2 separate regions of the Homo sapiens genome follow, and region 1 is linked to region 2. The links come from fine-mapping of genetic effects on gene expression. A gene starts in region 2. The other region holds a variant in brackets. All regions are shown on one strand. Distances are from middle to middle.

The links. PIP is the estimated chance that this variant, and not a neighbour inherited with it, causes the effect. A credible set is the group of variants that fine-mapping cannot tell apart.
Region 1: its variant is the best candidate, but not a certain one, in a credible set for the expression of DIRAS2 in tibial nerve (GTEx, PIP 0.56).

The regions. Positions count from the first base shown.
Region 1 is chr9:90,343,146-90,346,061 of GRCh38, reverse strand. The region is part of intron 2 of LINC01508 (long intergenic non-protein coding RNA 1508); the gene reads left to right. Among named protein-coding and RNA genes, the nearest start is that of LINC01508, 89 kb to the left of the region's middle. The variant A/G (reference allele first, on the strand shown) is at 1,622.
Region 2 is chr9:90,641,501-90,644,416 of GRCh38, reverse strand. It overlaps DIRAS2 (DIRAS family GTPase 2), which reads left to right and starts at 1,593. Exons shown (of 2, transcript NM_017594.5): 1 at 1,593-1,665. RefSeq lists a silencer at 1,605-1,654.

The DNA.
Region 1 (2,916 bases), 300 kb after region 2:
GAGTGGGGTTGCTGAGAGACAAAATGCAGCCCTCCAAAATGTGAGCAGGATGCAGCATATATACACACATATGTTACACTACCAGGTAAGCCTCAAACAGCAGTCCTTCCTGAATACAGTGAGATACAGCAACATGAGTGGGGGGCCTGAGAACATCCCCCTAAGTATTGAGCTAAATACCACAGAATGGCAGAGGAAATGGGGTCACAATTATAAATTCTGCAGATAAGCAACATTTTAACTTCCTGTGACCTGACTTCCTTACCTGTAGAAGTGGATTAAACAGTGGTGAAAAGAAGAGGGGAAGAAATCAAATGGATACAAGTACATGCTGCTATTTAGAATCAGACAAGCAGAAAAAGTAAGTACTCAGTCACCCAACAGAGACCTGGGCTGGAGGGGTATGACTATGGATCGTGTCAGTCTCATCTCACTGCCAAGCATGGATGGGAATTGTGAGGCGGAGTGAGTGCCCTGGGCTGTGCTCGCATCACATGGGGAGAAAAATGAATCTAGCACAACCGAAGTCGCCACTGATTCTGTTCATTTTGTCTCCCTCCCCATCGCTACCACACATGATTACCTTAGAGACAAACGGCCAATGTCAGAGAAGCAAAGGCAGGCACACAGTGACCTTGTGTAAACCAGTGTAAACATGTACCAGTGTAAACACAACACATACAAACACACACAAGAAAGAAAGAAAGGTGTAAAAAACAATAGTAGAAGCCTGGCACAGTGGCTCTCGCCTGTAAACCTAGCACTTTGGGAGGCCAAGGCGGGAAGATCATGAGGTCAGGAGTTTGAGACCAGCCTGACCAACATGGTCAAACCCCATCTCTACTGAAAATACAAAAATTAGCTGCACATGGTGGCGGGCACCTGTAATCCCAGCTACTCAGGAGGCTGACGCAGGAGAATCACTTGAACCCAGGAGGCGGAGGTTGCAGTGAGCTGAGATCGTGCCACTATACTCCAGCCTGGGTGACAGCGAGACTCCATCTCAAAAAAACAAAAAAAAAAAAGTAGAATATGATTCTGAAGAATCACAATAGGAAACAGAGATTTTGAAATAAATATCCCTTCCCTTTAGGCAATTAAAGTAAACATGAACTGTGTGAAAAAATATGACAAAGATTTAAAATCAAAAAAGAAAATGTGGGCAATTGAAGATAATATGCAAGCTGGGAGAAAGAAATGTAAAATAAAACTGAAAGCATTACAGAAATGAATTGCCCTGAAGACTCAGTCAGGGTCAGGGAGACTAGACTTAGGTGAATTGCAGAGGAAGAACTAGAAAGTGGGAAAAAACGAAGAGAGAAAATATTGCAGAGAAGTTGATTGATATGTGAGTCTGGCAAAAAAAAAAAAAAAAAAAAAAAAAAAAAAGCCAGTTCCATATAACTAGTGTTTTCAGAATGAAGAAACAGAAAATATATTCCTTGTTTTAAAAATAAACTACGATTTCTTTAGTTAAAAAAAAATCACTACAGTCTGGGTTATTTAAAAGTAACAATAGATCTGGATGATCAACACTAAGTCGTATCCCCATGAAGTTACTGAATTGGAAAGATTAAATAAATAAAAATAAAAATTCCTTGATCCTTTTAGCTAAAATCTC[A/G]GTCATCTCTAAGAAGGAAATATAACTGACCTCATACTTTTCCATTGAATTTCTTAATAACCGAGTGAGGACAGTAATATCTCCACAGTGGGTAGGGAAAGAATATAAGGAAAGAACATTCTTTGAATTCCTCAGTTCACTAGCCAGATACATTCTTTTTATTTTCCAGTCTGACTCTTTTGTTTGTGGGAGAAATCAGAAGATGTAGGAGGTGTCAAAACTAGTTTTCTGGGCAGGATACAGCATGAATCAGTGAAACAAAAGAAAGCAGAATTGTTTCAAAGCAACCCATGGTAACAACAGCAAAAAGTGTTTGTGGGGTTGGAACAAAGATCATTTGCATAGAAGCAGCACACCCTGTGGCCTTTCCACTTGTCTGACTTATGCTTTGCCTGGGAGATGGACTCAGCCAAGCACCCATTTAAACAACTAGCATCATTCATGAGGCTCTGATGGAATTAAGTGACCGTATATCCTCTTGAGCTGCTCTGTCCTAGGAAAATAGAACTTGGCCAGTCCTTCCCCAAATGGATCTGGTGATGAATGATGATGGGGAGAAAGTGAAAAGGATGCAGCAGAATTTGTCCATGGATTAAAATTTAAAATTAGAATTTTATTTTACATAAATGGAAAATAATGAATCAGCTGGGAAAAATAAGAGTCTGTTGAACAACTGCTGTTTTTCTTTAAAAAATGTATTATGGAGCTTAGGAGTTGGATTGATTGGAGTTGGAGGGAGGACAGAGAAGAGTAAAAGAGACAGAGATAAAGGCTAAGAACAAAGAGGCAGAAAGGTCAGTACATTGGACAGCAACAAAGGAGTGTTAAGGGCAGATGTTCGAAGGCGAATGGAGCCAGAGTTGGTGACCAGTTTAATGATCAGTGAAGACAAAAGCTAGTGTCTGCAGAGAAGCTTAGTAATGACACTTAAGCTAATTAGGCCTGTAGATCCTTTGAAATGGTCAGGGGTTTGGCTTAGGCTCACGGAAGGCTGAGTTGAGAAATTGGACTGAAAGCAAATACTAATGACTTGATTGAAAGTCAATGAATTAAAATGGCATCTCTCTACACTACTACCCCATTGTCATCCTGGGAAGGAGGCTGCAGCTGGCCTGGTTTCCGATGTTTAGAAAATGAGTTGGGCCAGGTGCGGTGGCTCATGGCTGTGATCCCAGCACTTTGGGAGGCTGAGGCGGGTGAACCACCTGAGGCCAGGAGTTCAAGACCAGCCTGGCCAACATGATAAAACCTCATCTCTACTAAAAATACAAAAATTAGCCAGGCATGGTGGCAGG
Region 2 (2,916 bases):
GGATATTCAGCATAGAACTGGCTCTCTTTATCAGCTCCTGATTTGCTCTCCCTGCTTCCATACTAGCACTGGATTTTTGCTTATTTAATCTTTTTACCCTCCTTTGTTTAGTTCTTAAATTCCATTTTGTCATTTAACCTGATAACCTACATTTTGGTTGTCATGGAAAACAACATCCTGACTTATAAAACTGGAAGGTTGTTTCAGGACCCAGAAACTGCATCAGGCAGTGCTCAGAATCCACTGTCATCATATTTGGAGCCTCCTCTGGGATGGGTTTCTGAGTGGCCATATATTCCTTTGCAATGAAGAGGAGACTGTGGAGGACAGGGTGACCACTCTGCTTTTAGACATCATTAGTGTAGGGGCAGGTTTGTTGAAGTAGCCTTAAATGACTTTAGTAAAAAGAGTGTATTTTTATTTTTATATTCCAATGGCTGTAGGATCAAGGCCAGAATTAGGATGAACTGGGGAATAAAATAAGTTTTCTTGACTATAAGTTGTAAAATGCGTAGTTTTTAAGTATGATTTTTAAAAAGCATATTTCCTGTGAATAGCAGGGCAGAATTTTACTATGGAAATGAACTTCAAAGGTTAACATGTTTTAATTATTTAGAAAGTGAAGACGGGATTAAAACAGATAAATAGGATTCTACAACAAAAATCAAATGTAAAGAACTACAGAATATTAATTTTGCTCAAGTCTTTTAGCATATTTGGTATTACAAAAGAATGAGTAATATAACCAAGAGAAGAAATCTTCCTTCAGTCTGTAGTTTAAACTTAACATGGATCAATGTTATGCTCAAGCACTTTTAAAAATGCCTGCACAGAATTGTTAGCCATTAATATTTTTTCTTGCTGATTCACCTGTTTTTTAATCAACGCGTCTTTGACAAAATTGTTTATCAATGTCAGGAAATAAACGTGGTCATTTGCTTGAAATGCTAATGTGAAACCACTCAGTGAAAAAGCAATTCTAATCCAAGCTTGCCAATGGCGGTGTTGTCATAGGATCCTATTAAATTAGAATATATTAATCTACACTGTGTGGTTGGCTATGGTATGGGGCAGGGCATTTCGTCTGCCTTTAAATGAGTCGGTTTTTAAAAGTTAAAATCTGGAAATGGAAAAAAAAAGTCTATATGGTTAGTAGCGATTATAGTTCGCAATGCGAACAAAAGAATCTGGTTCCCTTTCAATGGAATTATTTTAATTCATTAAATTATCAGAAAATTCCAGTCCTCGCCATCTATTCCAAGAGCATGCAGTAGGTGGCACCTAAAAGCTCTTTGGAGGCGAACAGGCGCCATTTAAGCAGGAGCAGCAGCCTCTGCAGCAGTTGGCACATCTGAGAAGGCAGAGATTGAAGAGAGTAGGAGGAGCGTGCAGCGGCGGTGACAGTGCCAGGCCGGAGCGGCTCAGGCCAGCGCAGGTGCAGGGGCTGCGAGCGGGTGGAGCGCGAGGGCGCTGGGCGCAGGGAGCACGGCCGGTGGGCGGTGCAGGGCGCACGGCGGGCGAGCAGCTGACAGCATCGTCACGGCGGCGGGAGGGAGTGCGCTGCGCCTGCCTCCGGGAGGAGCCGCATCCACACACCCTGCGCTGCCCTGTCCTGCGCGAGTGGAGCTCTGAAGAAGCTCTGAGCGGAGTTGTGTTCTTCCCCAGGTAACCGATTTCCCCCTTCTGCCGTGGCTTCGCTGCGTCCGCATTGGGGCACGGGCGGCTTTGGCATGATTGTTTGCCAGCCCCTGGAAAGGGATTACCGCTCTCAGGGAGGGCGAGTCAGCGTGTACTGGAGTTGGTAAGAGGGGAAGAAATCTGCATTTCTGTATCCTTGTTAGGGAGGGTGAGCATCATGCTGTCCTTGTCTAAAACATGTTCTTTTTTAAAAATCTGTATCTTACGTATTATTAGGGATTCCTTCCAAAACAGGATTTACCGTTTTGGAAAATTCTACTGTGCAGGTGTTTCTGTTAATGTGGAAGTTTAATGGATTTAGGAAAAGAGTAAGAAGATGTGGTCTAAAGTGAGAAAAAAGCCAAGCACGCTAGGGACTGCCGTTTGGTTCGGCATGCTTTCATCCTCGACTCCTTCACTTCATGCGCTTGGCCGAGACCTGTCTAAATCTTTTGTTTGTCTTCTTAAAGAATGTGTTTCATGATATCTACATGTGCTCCTTTCCGCTTCCTTGTTGTAAGAGCAGAAGATGGGCAAGGGGCTGCATCCAGTCCTTAGTTGTAAGACTGTGGTTTCCCATCAGATGACAATGACTGCTGACAGCTCCCAGGCTCGCCTGAAAAGCAGTGCTGGCTTCTGGCGTTGTGGGAACCTGCCTCTCTCCTTCTCTCTTGAAAAATGCTGTTTTTCCTCTTTAAAACTCCAATTCACATTCTATGTGGGTTTGGGAGACTTTTAAACTAGAAGCTCTGTGAATCATCTGTTACATCCATTGAATGCTGGAATACAACATTGTGGTGGAATTCAGTTTCTTCCTACTGTGCAGAGACACAGCTTGCCTTCCCTAGGAATTTATTTTACATATTTGCCCTCGTTATCTTTTAAATGGATCCCTTCAGATGTGAGAAGCTAGTCCAGCATATCAGAACTTTTCTGCTTCAAACTAAAAATTTTCAAAAATATTATTTTTGAGGAAGATTTTCCAGGTAACGCTAAAAGTCTGGAGCATTTTACATTTCAAATCAGTCACAATGTGCTCCATTTCCAGTGACATTTGGATTTGAGGAGGTGGAGGGGGAGGGAGAGAAAAGGGGAGGATAAAATTAGAATAAATTTAACAAATTTGTAGGGGAATCATACTTTTTTTTCTTCTTGGTTGTTGTCTGAAATTGAAAATTGTCCACAATTTTATCTATCTCTGGAAATGCAGGAGGCTTTGTGGGCTGGGGACAGGAAGAC